4 linked regions of the Homo sapiens genome follow. The protein of the gene in region 2 purifies or fractionates together with the protein of the main gene of each other region. This does not show direct contact. Each region holds a gene or a part of one and is shown on either strand. Other genes may lie near its edges.

Evidence for each region.
Region 1: the proteins of ATP6V1D (region 2) and MCMBP fractionate together in Homo sapiens (co-fractionation; one large-scale study listed by BioGRID). This does not show direct contact.
Region 3: the proteins of ATP6V1D (region 2) and ADD1 purify together in Homo sapiens (affinity purification with mass spectrometry; one large-scale study listed by BioGRID and IntAct). This does not show direct contact.
Region 4: the proteins of ATP6V1D (region 2) and XPNPEP1 fractionate together in Homo sapiens (co-fractionation; 2 studies listed by BioGRID). This does not show direct contact.

What each region holds. Positions count from the first base shown.
Region 1 is NC_000010.11:119,837,329-119,842,181, forward strand, and holds part of MCMBP (mini-chromosome maintenance complex-binding protein), read right to left. Parts: intron 3,633-4,853; coding exon 3,515-3,632; intron 1,373-3,514; coding exon 1,207-1,372; intron 1-1,206. UniProt on the Homo sapiens protein: Associated component of the MCM complex that acts as a regulator of DNA replication.
Region 2 is NC_000014.9:67,352,499-67,357,902, reverse strand, and holds part of ATP6V1D (V-type proton ATPase subunit D), read left to right. Parts: intron 1-4,862; coding exon 4,863-4,980; intron 4,981-5,404. UniProt on the Homo sapiens protein: Subunit of the V1 complex of vacuolar(H+)-ATPase (V-ATPase), a multisubunit enzyme composed of a peripheral complex (V1) that hydrolyzes ATP and a membrane integral complex (V0) that translocates protons.
Region 3 is NC_000004.12:2,902,506-2,907,358, reverse strand, and holds part of ADD1 (alpha-adducin), read right to left. Parts: intron 2,596-4,853; coding exon 2,251-2,595; intron 1-2,250. UniProt on the Homo sapiens protein: Membrane-cytoskeleton-associated protein that promotes the assembly of the spectrin-actin network. Binds to calmodulin.
Region 4 is NC_000010.11:109,863,497-109,868,349, forward strand, and holds the end of XPNPEP1 (xaa-Pro aminopeptidase 1), read right to left. Parts: intron 4,091-4,853; coding exon of another isoform or gene 4,033-4,090; intron 1,817-4,032; coding exon 1,688-1,816; coding exon of another isoform or gene 1,659-1,687; 3' UTR 1,270-1,658; downstream 1-1,269. UniProt on the Homo sapiens protein: Metalloaminopeptidase that catalyzes the removal of a penultimate prolyl residue from the N-termini of peptides, such as Arg-Pro-Pro. Contributes to the degradation of bradykinin.

The DNA of each region.
Region 1 (4,853 bases), on a different chromosome or scaffold from region 2:
AAACCAAGGAAACACTAAAACTACCGTCATACATAGATCAGCCTAGTGAATTTTACAGATTTTATATTCCCCTTTGCCTTAAACATGCCCAGTCTACCTCATTTTTTCTTCTACCTTTACCTCTTGAGCTGATCGCCAGCAGTGTATTCTTAATTGTCTTCATTTGAGCACTGGTAAACAATCTGCTTTCTTGTGATTTTATAATATATTCCGCAACTGAGGTTAGTGCAAACCATTTGATCTATTATTTCTCAGACATTCTCTGAAAACCATTTACAAACTTTACAACGGGAGGTTAAAACATAATTAGCCAGGCGTGATGGCGGGTGCCTGTAGTCCCAGCTACTCGGGAGGCTGAGGCAGGAGAATGGTGTGAACCCGGGAGTTGGAGGTTGCAGTGAGCCAAGATTGGCCACTGCACTCCAGCCTGGGCGACAGAGCAAGACTCCGTCTCAAAACAAAAAAAAAATTATATTAGATCTTTTCTACACTTCCCTTTTGAGGTATTAGATGACTAAAGGCAAAGCTTCCTCCCATTTCAGCTTTTTAAAAAGCTATTTGGGGCAGGTGCAGTGGCTCACACCTGTAATCCCAGCACTGTGGGAGGCCAAGGCAGGAGGATCACTTGAGCCCAGGAATTCAAGATCAGCTGGGCAACATAGCGAGACCCTGTCTCTACCATTCCTTACACTCACTGAAAAAAAAATTTTAGGTTATATACAACTACGCAAAAGAACCCAACACTGTAGGCCCATAAAGACTGCTCCAACCATTCGCTGACACAATAAAACTTTTCACCAAAGAACCCTTACGACCCTCAACATCTAATACTACCCTTTATATTACTGCTCCATTATACTAATACTACCCTTTATATTATTGCTCCATTATATAATATATAAAATATATAATATATGATATATATTAAATGAGACATTATATATTATATATGATATATATTATATAAGATATATTATATAAGATATATATCTGTTCCATTGTACTACTTTCAGAATACTATGGCAAAACATAGTTGGTGTATATAATTAGTTTATAACATATGCTTTAATCAAATTCATATGCCAAGCCTTTATCTTACGTTGTTAAATGTGAATTTGTCCATAGATACTCTTCTAAAAGTTATTCCTAGATCTGGCTTTAGTGCGAAGGAAGTCAGAAATGGAAGAGAAACATCTATGTACGTACCTGGGGTATCCAGCTGCCCCTGTTCCAGGAGAGTCTCATCGATTACAAGGGAAGTATTGCTGGGCAGCTGGAGGAGCCCACTGACCAAGCGATTGGCTGTGTAGTCTTTGTGGGGAATGAATTTCAAATGGTTCATGTTCTCTATAGTCATCTGCAGACGAAAAGACTGCAAAGAGAAATTTTTTAGTGAACAAGAATTTAAGTTTCCCTGTTTTAAGAAAATATGTACTTGGAATTAAACATTGTGTTTCATATGGAAAAAGTGATCTTATAAATTTCTAAGGGAGTAGTGATATGGTTTCTTGAACTCCAGAAGCAAAAATAGTATCTAGATCTTACATTTGAATTTCATCCATTTTATGAGCTACTTTATTCTCAAATGTCTTGTTCAATATTCTTGAAAATCAATTTTAATTTAACCAATGAAACAAATGGTAGATAACTGACATATAAATATTAAATACCCCAAAACCTAACCTCTTTCACCTAACACAAGCTAGCTAGCAAAAAGAAAATGTTAATTTTACTCTTCAAGACAGGGAGAGAAAAGCTTAATTTTCCTCTATATTCTTTGAGTTAAAATTGTATTCATTTATCATAGACATTTTTGAACAAACTTTTCAGAGAAAAATCAAGGAGCAGAGCACACTGAGCTGTGGATGGACCTGCAGCTCTCAGGAGGTGCCTCCAGGACGCGAGCACCTTCTCACTCAGTGTTTAACGAGTAAGCGAACCATCTATGCTCCTCCTCCAGCTCTTGAGCCACCATTCCCAACACCCTCTGTGCTCTGCCTTATACACCAATCCATTCTTCCATCCCTCCAGCCTCAAACAATGTGGCAGGGATGGAGAAGAGGGTATGGTGGGGGAAGGCTGTCAAGGAAGAGGTAAGATATATTGCGAAAATTTAGAGGAGTTTTGTGTATTACCTCAGTGATTCTAAGAAAACGGGGAGCTTAGGGGTGCTTAAATGACCTACCATGTATTAATTTATTTGTTGGTCTTCTACCTAAACTCTGTGAGGGCAAAGGATCTGTTTCAATAATTCTCAAAATGTGGTCCCGAGAACCCCCAGGGAATTGCTTAAACCCTTTTACAGGGTCAATCAGGTCAAAATCATGCATGGATAAAAGATCCTTTCAATGTGCGAGACTAATGAATTTTACCATAGCAGACTATGGAAAGTTTACGAATAGGATTTCAGATTCCACACTTAACTATCTTTAAGAAAATCTCATGTGGACAGTTTTGGTCTAGTATCAAAGACCACCACCCAGTTATCTGCAAAGGCTATCGAAACCATCCTTCCTTTACCATCTACTTTTCCATCTGTGTGAGGCCAGCTTTCCTTCATATACTTCAACCAAAACCTGAGACTACAATAGACTGAAGGCAGAAGCAGATACAAGCATCCATTGTCTCCTATTAATCCAGACATTGAAGAGATTTGCAAGAATGTAAAACAATGTCACCTTTATCACTAATCATTTTTGGCTTGGGAAAAGTTGTTTTTATAAAAATATTTATATGTAATTTTTTATTTTTAATAGGTGTATTTACTTTATCTTCTAGTTTGGTAAATTAATGATAAATATAATCATAACGTGAAAAACAGCTCTTTGAGTATGAACACATTTTTCAGAGTGTAAAGTGAGTCTAAGGAGACTGAGAACTGCTGGTATATTCCAGTCCACTTCTGCTTCTTGAGGGCCTGGACGAGTGTTAGCACTGAGACACTGAATACATTCGGTTCAATAAAGATCTAGTGCACCCTCTTCAATTTCCAAAGAAGTGATCAGTATTTTCAGTCACACAACTAATCAGAAGCAATTCCCCTGTTCCCAAGATCCTACCACCACGCAAATACTGCATTCCAGATACCCTGGCAAATAAAGTGAGCTCAACTTTCCAAACAGGAATTAAAATTGAGGCAATGGAGATAAAGAACTTTATTACCTCAACTAAAAGAATTATGCTCCTACAATTTAGAGTTTATTTAGATTTAAGACTTTAGTGTACAAAAAGGATACCAAATTGGACAAATTGGTATCAAGAGAGTGTAATTTTAAGGGAGTTACTACAATTGTTTTGTTAGACTTACAGAAATTTGTGCTTAGGCAAAAAGACAAAAAAAAGTGAAATGTTTAGGGGAACGTACATTTTAAATTATGTAATTTGGCAGGCTTTGTTTCCCCTTAAATAAGATCTATTAAAATCTCTAAGTTAAATATTTGAAGTGAATGAAAGACAGTTAGATGGATTTTTTAAGTGTGCTTAGGTTTATAATACATATTTATATTCATCTTACTGCTGGAACAAGATGTTGAATAATTCGATACAAGTGTTCTGTGAAGGTACTATTCCGTGGGCAACCACTCAAGTTAACTGTAAATTTTCCTAGTGGAAGGACATCTCTTCTTGTATATCTAGAAAAGAAAGAAATCAATCAATAAGATGCTGAAGTGACTTCCTGATTTCTATCAAATAGCGAAGAATAGAAAAATTAGCTTAATATTGTCATTAAAAATAAACCAGAATATTCTGACCAGTTATTTTATCAGAATAACAGCAATAAAAGTAATAGCCAATATTTGTACGTAAGTGCTGCTGGTCACGTGCCAAAGACCGTTCTGAGTATGTAAATGCTTCCTCATTTAACCCCTAACCATTCAGCGGTAGGTGCTGTTGTCTTTGCTTCACAGATGAGAAATCCGAGGCACAGAGATGATAATAAGCAACATGTTCATCTAAATGGAAGCTGACAGAGCTGGGATATGAATCCGGGTAGTTTGGTTCCAGAGCCTGTGCTCTCAACCATTATGTACTACTGTCACAGACTGATTTGAGAAAAGATAAGATTTACAGCACAAAGATGTTTCCTGCAACTTTATAATAGAGAAAAGCTAGGAAAAGCTAACATTTAGGGAAATGGTTACAGTATGGTACAACTGCATAGTGAAATACTTTGCAGCCACTACAAAGTTCATGAAGCATTATGATGGGAAAATGTTTAATATATATCAACTGCTGAAAACAAGACACGCATCTGTGCTTAGAGTGTAACTAAGACCTATGCAAGGATGTATACATATGTAAACAAAAACCAATGAACATGTACCTAAAGGTTAACGGAGGTTCTAAGTGGTGAAATTACAGATGATGTGCATTTTCCTCCTTATGTTCTTGGAACTTGTCAAAGGCCCACACTAGTTTTAAAATGAGAAACAAAGAAATACAGTGGAGTCAAGGGATGCGGTGCTAGTGTCAATGTCCACGTTAAACGTGCACATGACGTGGGCGCCTTGGGATGTATAAACAGAGCGTTCAGAATGCAAAAGGGATAAAACAGCTCATTTTACTCATCAGCCAGGTCCTTTATCTCAGGGGTCCCCAACGCCCAGGCCGTGGACCAGTACTGGTTCATGGCCTGTTAGGAACCGGGCCACAACATAGGAGGTGAGGGGTGGATGAGTGGGCATTACCGCCTGAGTTCCGCCTCCTGTCAGATCAGCAGTGGCATCAGACTCTCACAGGAGCGCGAACCCTATTGTGAACTGCACATCTGTGTGTTCCCTATGAGAATCTAACTAATGCCTGATGTTCTGAGGTGGAACGGTTTCATACTGAAACCATCCCCACTCCGGTCC
Region 2 (5,404 bases):
CGTAATCATCAGGAGGGATAGGGGCTTTGTCTCCCAGTCTGTGTGAGAGGATAGAATAGTAACTTACTAATTGCCAGGTAGTATGGCGTTTACACTGACCAACACTTTAAGGTTTCTCTTCTCTGACTCTTCTTGCGGCTGGCTCCCTGCCACTCCCTTACTCTCTTTTTTAAAATGGCCAGTCACCTCTGCACAAATGAGAATTGAGCTCAGCCCTTTCCCCTACTATCAGTGGTTTACTGAATAAAATCTGTTTTCACTACTTTAACGAATGTCTGGCTGGGTTTATCTTTGACAGCAGTCAGAATAACTTTTTTGTTTTTACTTTGAAACTTTTACTTTGAGACTAAGAGGCAAAAATAGACATCTTTGGGCTTAGGTAAGAAAATGATAGGCTCATGAAGGTGAAACTACTATTTGAAAGCTCTCAGCTTGCTGATTGAGAGGAAAATCAGGTGCAGGAAATAATCTCTTCTCTAAATATTTTCCCCATGGCTGGCAGCAGGCTTTTTGTCATGTAGTCAGATGTCTTTGATTCAGCTGGAAGAAAAGTCATCATCCTAGCTAAAGGTCAAACTTTTTGAGTAGGACTGAGCAGCTCTGAAACATGTAAAGGAGCAAGTTTTAAAAGCCATAGGCTAGAAAATATACTGGCAGCTTGTTTCACAGACATTTCCATTCAACAGTATTATTCTGTGATGTTACTTTCACCCACTTTCGTACCAGAGAAAGCAAAAACAATTGTAGAGTGGAAGTAAAAGACGCATGAAAAATTTGGAGTCAACAGAAGTCCACTAAATCCAGGTTCTGCTACATATTAGCTGTAAGTGTGCACGCTGCTCTTAGAGTTTCAGGAATTAAAATTGCCCATTTCACAAAGATGCCATTCCCTAGGAGGAAAATAAAATTAACATGGTAAATTCAATTTTATCAACCAGTTTACCTTTTACTATAAACTGGCTGGAATATGCAGTACTACAATTTGACTTAAATTTGATCCAGCTCTTTGAGCCCAAGTTCTAGTATTTACTATCAACAATACATTATGTTAAATGCACACATTGAGATGGATAGCTCCTTCTCAGGCTGGAAACTAAACGACCTTCACTTGATAAGACCTCTTGTGAGACCAGTCAGTGCAGAGTCAGCCAGTGATAATTGTTCTCTTTAAGGGGAGGCACATGTTTGGGGTACAGTGAACGTAGGTTGGAGCCTTAGTTTGAGCATTGGGAAAGTCAGTGGAATCAAAAGTCTGGTTCAAGTCCCTGCCCTGCCTTTTCTTCACTGAGTAACTTTGAGAAAGTTGTTTTACTTTTCTAAGCCTCATTTTTCTAATCTTTAAGTTAATGTCTAAAGTCCCTTTCAGCTATAGAATTGTCTTAGTGATCTTAGCCCTATGGTAAAAGATTCCAGTATAATTTAAGAATTTGGCCAAATGGTGTTTGTTTGTTTTTGTTTTTTTTTTTTTGTTTTTGTTTTTTTGAGGCAGGTTTTCCCTCTGTTGCCCAGGCTGGAGTGCAGTGACCCGATCTTGGCTCACTGCAACCTCTGCCTGCCAGGTTCAAGTGATTTTTGTGCCTCAGACTCCTGAGTAGCTGGGACCACAGGGATGCAGCACCATACCCAGCTAATTTTTGTATTTTTTGGTAGAGATGGGGTTTCACTATGTTGGCCAGGGTGGTCTCGAACTCCTGACCTCAAGTTATCCACCTGCCTCGGCCTCCCAAAGTGTTGGTATTACAGGTGTGAGCCACTGCACCTGGCCAAAAAAGTTTATTAGTACATGCGATTTTAAAACACCAGTCATATGAAATTATATCCCCTTAAATCACTGTGTCTAGGTTATACTGTGTCTAGGTTATACAACCTTATTGTTGAATTTTATTACCCAAACACTTGTTTTTTTGAGACCGAGTCTTGCTCTGTTGTCCAGGCTGCAGTGCAGTGGCATGATCACAGCTCACTGCCTCAACCTCCTGGGCTCAATCAGTCCTCTCACCTTAGCCTTCTTTGTATATGGGATTACCGGTGTGCCCTACCATGCCCAGGTAATTTTGATATTTTTTTTTTTTTGTAGAGACAGGGTTTCACCTTGTTTCCCAGGCTGGTCTTGAACTCAAGCAATCTACCCACCTTAGCCTCCCAAAGTGCTGATTATAGACATAAGCCACTGTACCACTTACCTTATTTAGAGCATTCTTCCTAAGGTCCTCCAGGTACTTTTCATTAGCTCTTTTTCCTGCCTGAAATACTCTTTCCCCGGAACTTATAACTGGCTCCTTTGGCTGTTCTAGTCTCTTAAGAGAGGCTGTTCCTGATCACCCAATCTAAAGTGAACACCATGTTTGCTTCTGTCATAATTCCTTATTTTAATTTTATTGTAGCATGTACTACTGCATGGTATGACATTTTATTTCTAGTCTTTTTTTTTTTTTTTTTTTTTTTTTTTTTTTGAGACAGGGTCTTACTTCTACATCCTCGAACTGGGCTCCACTTTTTTCATTATTAAATTGTATCTGGCATATGGCAGCAAGAACAGAAATGTCAGTTTCTGCTTGACTTTGGTATTGGGGCTTCTGATGGGGAAAAAAATTGAAACAAGGAAGTGAGGAGACTTCAGTGTAAATTTAGCTTGTCATTTCTCAGGAATCTTACGTATGTCATTTGTTACCTAGTCTTTTACAAATTAATAAAATGATTGCTGTTAGGATCTTGATTGATGATATCAAAACATGTTAATACCACACTTTTAATAGAAAATGTGGTAAATTATTGTGGTATAAAAAATGCAGGCCAGGTGCGGTGGCTCATGCCTGTAATCCTAGCACTTTGTGAGGCCGAGGTGGGCGGATCACCTGAGGTCAGGAGTTCGAGACCAGCCTGACCAACATGGAGAAACCTGTCTCTACTAAAAATAAAAAATTAGCCAGGCATGGTGACGCATGCCTGTAATCCCAGCTACTCGGGATGCTGAGGCAGGAGAATCGCTTGAACCTGGGAGGCAGAGGTTGCAGTGAGCCGAGATCGCGCCATTGCACTCTAGCCTGGGCAACAAGAGTGAAACTTCACCTCAAAAAATAAAATAAAATGCAAAAGGTACAAAAGAATATAGTAGTAAAAAGTAAATCCATATTTTTCATCCAGTCCCATTTATCAAAGGTAACTCTTGCCAGTTTTTGTGAATCCTTTCTAGAACTATTCTCTGCATCTATATAAGCACATTTTTTCCTTACTTTGCATAAATAAGACTGTTATATAGACAGCACATGCCTATATACCTTCGTCTTTTTTAATGACTGTATATCATTCCATCATAGGTGAACTCTGATGTATTTAGCATTTAGCTTGTTTCTCCCTTTTGCTATTACCATAAGGCTGGAGTACCCATCTTTTAAACCTTGCACGTGTTTTTGTACACATGTGGGAATAAATTTGTAGGATAAATTCCGCAAAGTGGAATTGTTGGTCTTGAAAATAATTGCATTTAAAATTTTGATATATATTAGTGGATAGATTTTTAAATCCTTAATATACCTCCAGTGGAAACTAAAACAAAGATATTATTTTAACTTACAAATCAAATAAGTATTTAAACTATGTTGGCATCATAAAATAAGGCTCCTGATAACATTTATGATGATTTAATAAATATTCCAGATATTGATTATAAAATTGTTTCTGTTGTAAATTAATAAACTTTTCATTTATGGAACACTGATGGTAGAAATCTACATTATTGGAAAACCAGTTGTCTTAGTCCATTTTCTGCTGCTATAACAATACTTGAGACTGGGTAATTTATAAAGAAAAAAATTTATTTGGTTCATGGTTCTGGAGGCTGAGAAGGGTGAGGGCCTTCTTGCTGTGTTATCCCATGGCAGAAGGCGAGGGTGAGAGAGAAAGCAAGAAAGGGTCGAACATGCCTTTTTTTTTTTTTCTAAAGGGACAGGGTCAGGTGCAGTGGTTCATGCCCATAATCCCAGCACTTTGGGAAGCTGAGGCTGGAGGATTTCATGAGACCAGGAGTTAGAGGCTGCAGCAAGCTATGATCATACCACTGCAATCCAGCCTGGGTGACAGAGCAAGACCCCATCTCAAAAAATAAGGAGTCGGGCCGGGCATGGTGGCTCATCCCTGTAATCCCAGTACTTTGGGAGGCTGAAGCAGGCAGATCACTTAAAGTCAAGAGTTCGAGATGAGCCTGGTCAGTATGGTGAAACCCTGTCTCTACTAAAAATACAAAAAAATATAGCTGGGCTTGGTGGCATACGCCTGTAGTTCTAGCTACTTGGGAGGCTGGGGTGGGAGAATTGCTTGAACCTGGGAGGTGGAGGTTGCAATGAGTCGAGATCGCGCCATTGCACTCCAGCCTGGGCCTCACAGTGAGACTCCATCTCAAAAACAACAACAACAACAACAACAAAAGGAGTCTTGCTACTATCTTACCCATGCTGGACTTGAACTCCCAGGCTCAAGGGATCCTCCCACTTACACCTGTAGCTGGGATTACAGGTGTACCCAGATGAACTCACATTTAAAACCAACCCACTCCTGCAATAAGGAACCCAGTCTTACCATAATGACGTTAATCCATTCATGGAGGGCAGATCCCAGATGACCCAGTCATCTCTTGATGGTCCCACCTCCCAACATTGTTGCATTGGAGATTGTTTCCAACACATGAAGATTAGGGACATATTCAAACCATAGCATCAGTTAAACCTGTCAGCTACAAATTCTCTATATAGTCTCACTTTCATCACATCAAAGGATAAAGGATAATTTTAACACTGGTGGGGAGGGTTTTTTTTGTCTTTTAAACAATGAGAATAGATGTCTTAACTTTGTTTATGTTTATATAGGGCACAGACCATCATGAAGGCTCGTTTAAAGGGAGCACAGACAGGTCGAAACCTCCTGAAGAAAAAATCTGATGCCTTAACTCTTCGATTTCGACAGATCCTAAAGAAGATAATAGAGGTAGAATGAACTTTTCTTAGAATAGTATTTATTTTAGAAAAATCCAGCATGGCCCTTGGCATTTTTTTTTTTGTTGTTGTTATTTTAATTAATTTTTTTCTTTCAAAAGTAAAAATACCATTATAAGTTTAACAAGTGTCAAATATCAAATAGTTCATTTAATAAAATCCAAACTCTTTAATCTTGCCTGCAAAGCTCCACTTGATCTGATTGGCCCCCCGCCTGCCTCTCTTACCTTATTTAGAGCATTCTTCCTAAGGTCCTCCAGGTACTTTTCATTAGCTCTTTCTCCTGCCTGAAATACTCTTTCCCCAGAACTTATAACTGGCTCCTTTAGCTGTTCTAGTCTCTTAAGAGAGGCTGTTCCTGATCACCCAATCTAAAGTGAACACCATGTTTGCTTCTCTCACAATTCCTTATTTTA
Region 3 (4,853 bases), on a different chromosome or scaffold from region 2:
ATGACAGGGTCATGAAAAGCAATGTGATGCTGCTACCCAGGGTTAGGGAGGAGCCTGCACCGTGAGGCAAGAGTGGGCATCACCAAAGTTTTGCATTAAAGTAAATGACAGCATCAGAATGCACTGTCTGCGTAACTTTCAACCCAAGAACATTACTGTATGGACACTTACACGGTAGCTACCTGGAAGAAGAGTTTGGTGATGTCGAATATTTTATATAACTTAATATTTTTGAGTGCTACAAAAATATCCCAAACAAACTTGAAGCGCTTCATGAGTCCTTAATATTTAAAGGCTGTTTTAGTATCAGTGCATCTCGTCAGCATGCTGAGCCTTCCACCCATAATTTTTTTTTGGATCTCCAATCAAATCTGAGATTTTTAATCAAATTCTAAGGCATGAGTAGGCACTGAACATTAAAACAAGCCCATCTTCGAGAGCAAATGTTATGCCTTTCAGAATACTTTCGAGAGGCAATAAGATAGCCATAAACCATACGACTTTAAAAAAAGCAACAAAACCAGCAAATGCTGAGCCACTGCGAGGAGAGTGTGGAATGGGCATGGAGCTCTGGGTACTCACTGATGGTTATCTTCTCAGATAAAAACAACTCCAGCGTTTTATTAAAAATAATTTTTAGTCAAAGCATTTCAAACAGCAACCTCAGAAACTTGAACACATTTGAAAAAGTAACAGCAATCATTATAAATGAAAAGATACCAACCTGGGAGCACTGCATGGACTCTGTCACTCCAGAACAGTAAGAAACAAATATAAATGCGGAGCAAGGCCTCCCCTTGGATGTACACATTGACTACTAGGCCTAAAGTGACTTAGTTGTTTTGCAAGCTAATGGTAAATAAAGCTCGCGCTGCTGCCTAAACGCTTTGGAAAACTTCCTCATGGCAATTCAGCACTGTGCTTCACATCAGCCGCAGAAAGGTGTTTTGGGGTTTTTTTTTTTTGTTTTATAACGCCCACTTCCTTTAACAAGTGAAACAAGTAAAAAATAAACAAATGAAAGAAAAGGGGAGACAGGAAGAAGGGGGGAAAGAAGACAAGGAGGGCAGGAAAGAAGAGGAGAGACGCACTCCCATGCTCAGAGCCCCATGGCCACACAGGGTCCCTGCCCAGGTGACGCGGCCGCTCAGGAGCACGGAGGCTTCTCACCAACTGCGTCAGGAAAACACCAGGACCACCTGGGGAAGATAAAACTTTTTTTCTTTAAATAAATCTATAAAGTAAAACACTGTTACAAGGGGAAAAGAAAGCCCCACTTTATGTATTTGGTTGCCCATGGTTTTAGGAGCATCTAATCTAATTTCAACTGAACTCCTAATGAACTAGTCATGCACAGATGAGTCTGCTTCAGCCCCTGTCTCCTCCATTCCAGGGGCTTCTGGAAATGGGCCTCTTCTACATACAGTTTAAAGCAGAGCTGGGTGGACTGTTAGAGGTAGGTTACAGGAGGAATAAAGACCCATCTTCAGAGGAGGTCTCAGCACCACGACATGGGAGCACCTCTCAGGACAAACGATAACTTGAGCGGCATTAACGCTGAAACGAAGCACCCCTTGCAGCGTCTGTCGCTGGTGCCTGCAGATGGCCTGCGCTGCACTTGGGTCATGCCGCACCCAACAGGAGTCAGAAGGTGACTCGCCACTATGGCCGTCTACTCACATGCAACAGTCCATGCAGAGGGCAGCTGGGGGTGTGCATTCGGAGGCTTTGGGATAGAAAGCAGGGGAATAACACTAAGGGCAGGGGACAAGAGTCAGCAGAGAACACGCCAGGGAGCCACAAGGGAAAACTGCTTAAGAAAACACTGAAGACTTAAGAAACTTTAGTGACTTGAAACCACTGGAGTTCACAACACTAAAATACAGGTTTAGGACTGAAGTGTCTTTTTGTGCATGAAGTATTAAGAGTCCCTGAATATAATTTGAATTAAATAAGAAGAGCTCCTATTTGTAGGTTAATACATGTAAATTATTGTATATTTTTGCTATATACGGAGATATACTGGAACTACTGCGGAGTTACATTACATCTTAAGCAGTTTCAAGCAGATAGTATTATCCGAATTTTAGTAATGCATTCAGTGGACTTAGGTTCAGACTACAAGAAAGTGAATAAGGAAGGTTCGCTTTACACCTGGGTCAGAAAGGCTGGATTCCCAAAGCCTCCGAAGCCCCAGCTACCCAACTTGCTCTACGTCATCTAACTATGAACAGTAAGGTAGGCACAGACCAAGCAGTTGGTAATACAGCTTGGCACGCAGACACCGGACGAGAGAGACTGCAGCAAGGGTTTCACGTGATCGTGTGTAATGTTCGTCCACACCTTAGTCTTCGACTTGGGACTGCTTCCATTCTGCCCTTCCTCGGAAGCTTCGTCGCCCCGGCCAGAGTTCAGCCATCTTGTCTTCTCCCGCTGCTGCTTCTGAAAACTGTGTCTGAGTGGGGAGCAAGTGCCCGAATCACCGTCACTAGCAAAGGAGTAACCTGTGACACTAGCAGGAACCTCCACATCGCTGTATTTTTTAGACTTCTCTCTCAGAGCAGGGTATCGATAAGGGTAGCCAGTTCTGTAGCCCTAGGGTCCAAGGAGAGTGAAAGACAGTCAATATTCCAGATCTCAAAACAGGGTTTCACTTTGGAAAATCATGTGGAAACATCCACAAAAGTTGAACACATGCATACCCTATGACTCAGTAATTCCACTCCTAATTTTACACCCCACAGAAGCAAATGTGTTCACCAAAAACCAGGTACTAAAATGTGGACAGCAACCCTACTCCTCGTAAACCACAATTGGAAACAACCCAAAAGTCCATCCATATAGGAGATGGATAGTCTAGTGTCTTCATAAGAAGGCTTATAGTGACACAATGTGCTCTAAACCAACCACGTGGATGACTCTCCTGAAGGCAACGCTGAGTGAAAGAGACCAACCTGCAAAGAACATACACCATGTAATACCATTCATTAAAAGTGCAGAAGATGCAAAACAACCTTTGTTTTGGTTGTCCTGGGAGACAGGACAGTTGTCACCCCTGGGATGGGACAAGTGAACTGAAGGAGGTGCTGGGGGTGTTCTGAGGTGCTGCTACCGTTGCTCTTATTGACTGCTGGTTATACAGGGGGTTCAGTTTTTAAAAATGAACAAACTGAACACTTGCGGTAGGTGCACTCTCCTGCTTACATATTTCAACAAAAAATTAAAGTTGAACACCCAAACAGGGTTTACTTGCTGCCAGCCACTGTGCAGGTTATATTCATCAACATACTTAATAGACTTTTACCTCTTAAGTTACAGTTTAAATACTGTGATAATCTTTAGGTAAGTAAGGTAAGTAAGTATACCTCATGACAACTGGTTCTCAGCAAAATTACTTTACGTCTGAATACAACAACATTCAAATTCACCTCCAGCTCTGCCTCATGACCATGTGCTCTGTGGTAAAAGACAGCCCCACTTACTTCATGCCTCTACTGGACCAACTCATCTGCAGAGTCCTCCCACAGACAGCATCTCTAAGGGCATGGACGGTGTCCTCTGCATCTCTCCTGGCCACACTTGGTAAGTGTGACAGACAGACTTCACAGTGGCCCCAGGCCCCCAGCTCCTGTAATCCCCTCCCACCTTGAGCACAGGTGAGATCTCTGACTTGCTTCTAAGTAGCGGAATTCACAAAAGGTGATGATGGGCTGTATCACAGAAGAGTTTAGCACCTATCTTATAAGAGTCTCTGTCTCTACTGCTGGCTCTGAAGAAGTAAAGCTGCCAAGAATGCTTCAGCCCTAAGAAAAGGAATTCTGTCCCCAGTCTAGAAGAGCCTGGATGTGGATCCTCTGAGTCAAGTCTCCTGATGAGAACCCAGCCCTAGCCAACACCCTGAATGCAGCCTTTATGAGACCCTAGGTTGAGTTCGCTGTGCCTGGACTCCTGCCCCACAGAAGCTAGGAAATAAATGGCTGCTGTTCGAAGCCACCAGGCCTGTAGTGATTTGTTGCCCAGCACAGAGAGGTAATACGGGGGATGCTGAAGAGCTGTCTGCTCAACAACCTAACAGATTCGCACCTGAACCAAGTCACTCACAGCACCTTCACAATACATCACAAGAGAATCAGGACTTGGAGGGACTGCACAGGGTCAGACATACAAGACACTTCAGTGGCCTGTGCCCTGCTGGCTGTGGTACTCTAGAAACAGTCCTCTCAATTCAGAATTCTCTCTCCCCTCTGGGTACTGCTCTTTTTTGGGGGCCATCTTCATTACTAATCACTCTTTCAATATTTTTTTTATTTTTTTAATTTAATTTTTTTTTTTTGAGACAGAGTCTCACTCCATTGCCCAGGCTGGAGTGCAGTGGCGCCATCTTGGCTCACTGCAACCTCCGCCTCCCAGGTTCACACTATTCTCCTGCCTCAGCCTCCTGAATAGCTGGGACCACAGGCACGTGCCACCACACCCGGCTAATTTTTTGCATTTTTAGTAGAGACGGAGTTTCACTGTATTAGCCAGGACGGTCTCAATCTCCTGACCTCATGACCCACCTGCCTCAGCCTCCCAAAGTGCTGGGATTATAGATATGAGCCACCACGCCCGGCCTCCTTTTATTTTTTTGAGATGGAGTCTTGCTCTGTCACCCAGGCTGAAGTGCTGTGGCTCGACCTTGGCTCACTGCAACCTCTGCCTCCCGGGTTCAAGTGCTTCTTCTACCTCAGCCTCCCGAGTAGCTGGGATTACAGGCACCCTCCACCACACCTGGCTAATTTTTGTAGAGAAGGGGTTTCACCATGTTGGCCAGGCTGGTCTTGAACTCCTGACTTCAGGTGATCCACCTGCCT
Region 4 (4,853 bases), on a different chromosome or scaffold from region 2:
TTCAGTACCACTAGACCCACCCTGCAAGAAATGCTTATAGGAGTTCTGCAAAGTACAATGAAAGGACACTAGACAGTAACCCAAAGCAGTATGAAGAAATAAAGATCTCAAGAAAAATAAATACATTGGGCAATTATAAAAACCAGTATTAGTGTACTGATAGCTTGTGATTCCAGTTTTTGTTTTCTATATGATTTAAGACTAATACATTTTTTAAAAAATTATGTCTAAATGCTAGTATTACTGTTTTTAAAAAGTTAATGAGGCTAGTTTTAAAACAATATAACCATACGATGGAATTAAGTCATTAAAAATAATTCAATCTAAAATATTGCCAAGTTAAAAGATAAAATTGTATACGTACAGAATAATTCACTGTTTGTAAATGTGATATGTTCATATATGGCATATTCTTTCATACATACACAAATAATCAGTATTTTAGTAAATTTTGAATACAAAAAAAAAAGGAGTCAGCAAAAAATATAAAGCAGATAATAGTGGTTATATCTAAGGAGTATGTCAGGTTGGATTAATAAAAAAGCAGACCCTAAAACAAGGATTTGCATGTAAATGGTTCATTCAGGATGGTACCAGGAAACACTAATGGGACAGGAAGAAAGTAGGACATGGAAGAGAAGAAAGAAAACAAAGGGTTGGTTATTGAGCAAGTTACCATGGTGGGCAAGTGGGGCTCAATCCCACTGGGAAACCCTGAGTGACAATGTAAGACATACCTCTGATATCTTAGCCAAAGGATGAGGAAGTCTATTTGCCCATCCCATCCCCAAACGTGATGGTCTGAGATCTCAGGGACATTAACTCTCCAACCCTTGGAGCTTGCCCCACATATACAAGTCAAAAGAAATCCTGCAGAATGGGAGTCGCAGGCACTTGTCACAGAATCCTGCCTACAAGTAACGGAACAATGAGAGCTGTGGCCATGTAGGTAAGACACTTGTGGCATCTGCTATAGGGTGAGTTATGGAAAACTGACTTTTGACATAATTTTTATTGTTTTTTGCATAGGAATGACATATTTTAAAATCAGGAAAAAAAACTGAGATAAAAACACCATAATATTAGGTTTTCTAGAGAAAAGAAAAAGCTTACAACTAAGCCCCCAAATGTGCGGGGAGGCCAGGGGTCTCTTCTCAAAGGGGCCCTTCCACCTAGGAAATGTCTGCCACAGAGCCAGCAGCCCTGGAGATCAGCTCACCCGACATGCCGGGGGACAGCACCATGAAGAAAGAGACAGCTAAGACAAAGCACAGTTCTGACATTTTTATTCACTGATCATAAATATAGTCTCATGAGCATTAAGGTGATCATGAATGATGTACTAGCACCTGGAACATGACCATCATGGAGCACTCACTGATTCCCCATCACTGGCCAAAGAAGTCGGGGCATCTTCCTTTCACCAAGTGTTCAACTTTGGAGGGACCCTCCTTCTGGTGCAGCAATTTTATTCTTGGCTTGTTCTCAACAATTAAAAAATCATAAAAGACTGAGTGTTTGCAATAAAATATCAAAGAGGATAAGAAGATTTTCTGTTCTTCTTAAAGTCTAAAGTAAAAAGGGGAGGTAGGGAAGAAGGAAAGGAAAGGGGAAAGATGTCAGGGATCTGCCACGTTTCTTCCTTCCTCCAGAGCATTTTACAAAAACAAAACCGGGGAGGTATTTATTAATGCTGTTTGGAGATGGGTTGCGTCTCTCTGATGAGCCACTCGAGAGCTTCCTGGCGGCCCTGTTTCTGCAATTCCTTCCCAATCACATCCCTGCAGGTCAGGTGGTAATTGTTGAGCCAGTCGCACTGCAGGGAAGAGAAGGACAGACACGGTATTCACCACTACATCTTTAACAACTGGCTACACAGGTCAACAGCAAAGGCCCCCATGTGCTAAGATCACAAGCTGAGAGAAAAGGTGTGCAACACCCTTTCTCCTTACTCACAGGTAAGTATTTTCCTTGTGTTCTGTTTCCCCGGAAATACATAGGACCAGACTTCATGGCTTCTGGTGAAAAGGCTCCCAGAACAGTTTACTATTATAGACAGCAGTCTCTAAGCCAGTAGCTCCTGCTCCCACCTGTGTGGCTTCATTCCCTTAAACCTGAGCCATCCTGGGAGGTGGTAAGTGGGGGAATAGCCCCGGACTCTGTGAGAACTCCTGCTGAGAGAGACACTCGAAGCTGTCCTGCCAACACACTGGGCTACATATCCTATATCCACTGAAAAAGCTGAATAAAAAACTAGGATCAGCCAAGCCCATGGGTGTCTTTTGAGTGTAGCTGCCTAGATGAACCCAAAACCTGCGGTGGTTAAAGACTGTGGTGCAGCAGAATGGCGCTGGGAGTAAACTTAGTTTTCAGACTCTCAACTCAACATGCCACAAGAGCAGGAGACAAAAAAGAGAGTGAAAGGAAGGACCTGCTGGCAGGACTTGGTGCCTGGGCAGGGGCTGATCCACTAGACATGATGGCAAAAGCTCTGAGGCAGGAAAAAGGGTGAACTCTCCTCCTTGGTTGTATACGGGAAAAGGTGAAGTCTGGAGTGAAGCAGGTTTTACCAAGAGGACAACAAGCCACTCTCATCACTGTCTATGGGGGTAGCTGTCTGGAAGCTGATGAGACTGATAGTGCCATGGCTGTGCTTGTCATAAATGAGTCAAAGGCCATTTTGGAGGGCAGCGATGTTACAGAAGTACTGCTTTCAGGGACTACAATCCAGCCAGGTACCAAAGCCCAGCTGGGGTCAGGATGGGCACACAAACCCATTAATTACAAGGGACTGAGGGCAGACAGATAGGGTGGTGTTACCAACTGGCTGTGACCCAGCCAGGGTTCCAATCCCTACTGAGAAGAGCCTAGTAGCCCCTTCTGGGAGTCAGGGAAGTGATGGGGGCAGGGGAGGATGTCAAAAGCAGGCAAACTGCTATGTGTCCACAGCAAGGCCAGCAGGGCTACAAAGCAGCCTACTGTCCAAAGCAGCTCAACAGTAAGGCAACGGCAGCATCCTGGTGTAAGCCTGGGGCCACAGCCAAACGCCCATGGCCCTTTTGGTTGGAAGTAGGGAGGGAAAAGTGGGAGTGTGGACAGCCTCGGTGGAGCCTGAGGAGCAGCACAAGGCCCTGACAGTCTGCAGCTGGCCATATTCATATCTGACCAAGGTCCTTTGCTGCCATCTGGTGATAAGTGATGACGATGCAGACCCAAACCAAAAACTCCCTAAAGTGACTCCAAAATAAAGGCTAAATAGTAAAGGGCAAATGACCAGATATTTTAAAAGCCAGATATTTTAAGAAGACATTATCTGCCCTACAAAGAGTAACTGGCCGAAAGAATAGTTCAATCATGTGGGCATGCAAGGTGCAGCAATGAAACACTGGGTAACACAGATCCCTGGTCTATGTCCAATGTCACGGGAGTAGACTGATTCTCCTTCGAGGAAAAATGGCCTGGCTTAAACTTCCTCATATACTACTTCCCTGGATAAAGGGGAATGTCATATGGGAGAAATGCCTCCTGATGGGTACACTTTATGTGGACAGGAAGGACTGCATGACCTAGAATTACTTGGCAGGAATCCATAGCCTTGGACTTCCAAGAGTGCGAAATGACTTATTACTGGAAAGCCCCTTGCTAAGTCCCTGGAAGCTGTGCCCAAGGGCCATTACAAGAGACACTGGTTCCTATGGGGCAGAGGGATTCTAAGCAGGGTGGGTCCCATGCCCACCTATGTGTTTTCATTTCCTCTCAGCTAAGGCAACACTTACAGGGGCTGGACAAGAGCCCCTGGACACTGGAAGGACTCTTCCTGCTGAAGAGACACACCAGACATTGTGCTGATAGGCTGAGTTTCCTTTTCCATATCCATCTACAAGCTGCATAACCCACCCGGTATCAGCAAGGCCCATGTGGGTCCTGTGAGTGGGAATGTTTAGCTGAACCAAGGGCACGGATGGTTAAGCAGAGGCGCTCAAGCACAGAGGAAAGCTAAGCAGGAAGTGGATGGACTTTCTCATCACCCACCTGTGAACTGGAACAGGCAGAAGAGGCTTCTAGCTGGGAGAATCCCATTCCACAGCTCCTGTGGAAGGGAAGGTCCTTAACCCCCAAAGACCCTTTCCTTTACAGTGTCAAGAACGAGGCCCAAGTGGGCGCCAGTGAGGAAATGTTCCTGCCTTGAGAGGCACTCAAAGGCCATTGGCTGCCTCAGATAACAAAATATTCTTATTCCGAGAGTAACCCACCGTGCTTACCCTGCCTTCGGCTCCCACCAGTCATTTGCTTTTCATTGGAACTTCTGACCCCTGCCTTGCTCTGGAATTTGTGTCCTCCTGGCTTCCAGCTTCCTGGTTTGGGAACTGTTTTGTCTGTCTAGTGCTAACAGTTCCTACCCCATTTCTGACCCTTGTTTCTGCTCTGACCTTGAACATCTGTGTGATTCTTCAGGCCTTTCTCATGTCCCCAGGACTGCCATCTGACCTGGCCTTACCAGTCCAGGGTCTGAAGGAGTTAAGACCCATAACCCTCTGAGCTGGGCAAGTAAGCACTGTTGTGCCCCAGGCTTTGTGAAGGGTTTCACTGCCCCAGAGTGACCACAGTAGTAACCGAGAAGGGCTGGTACTATCTTTCTCCTTGTCTGTGTGAAAACAGGACATACGATAATAGATTTTGCTTTCCATTTCCTTAATGTTTCATGTAACACAAGAAAACAATCTGGTATGTACAGTGGCCAAGAGGCCCCACCATCCATCTGGCTTTTTGTAGGGACACACATAGGCTCATATTTGCTAAACACGCCTCACTGCAGCTATGGAGGAATAGTACAGCCAAACAATGGCATACGA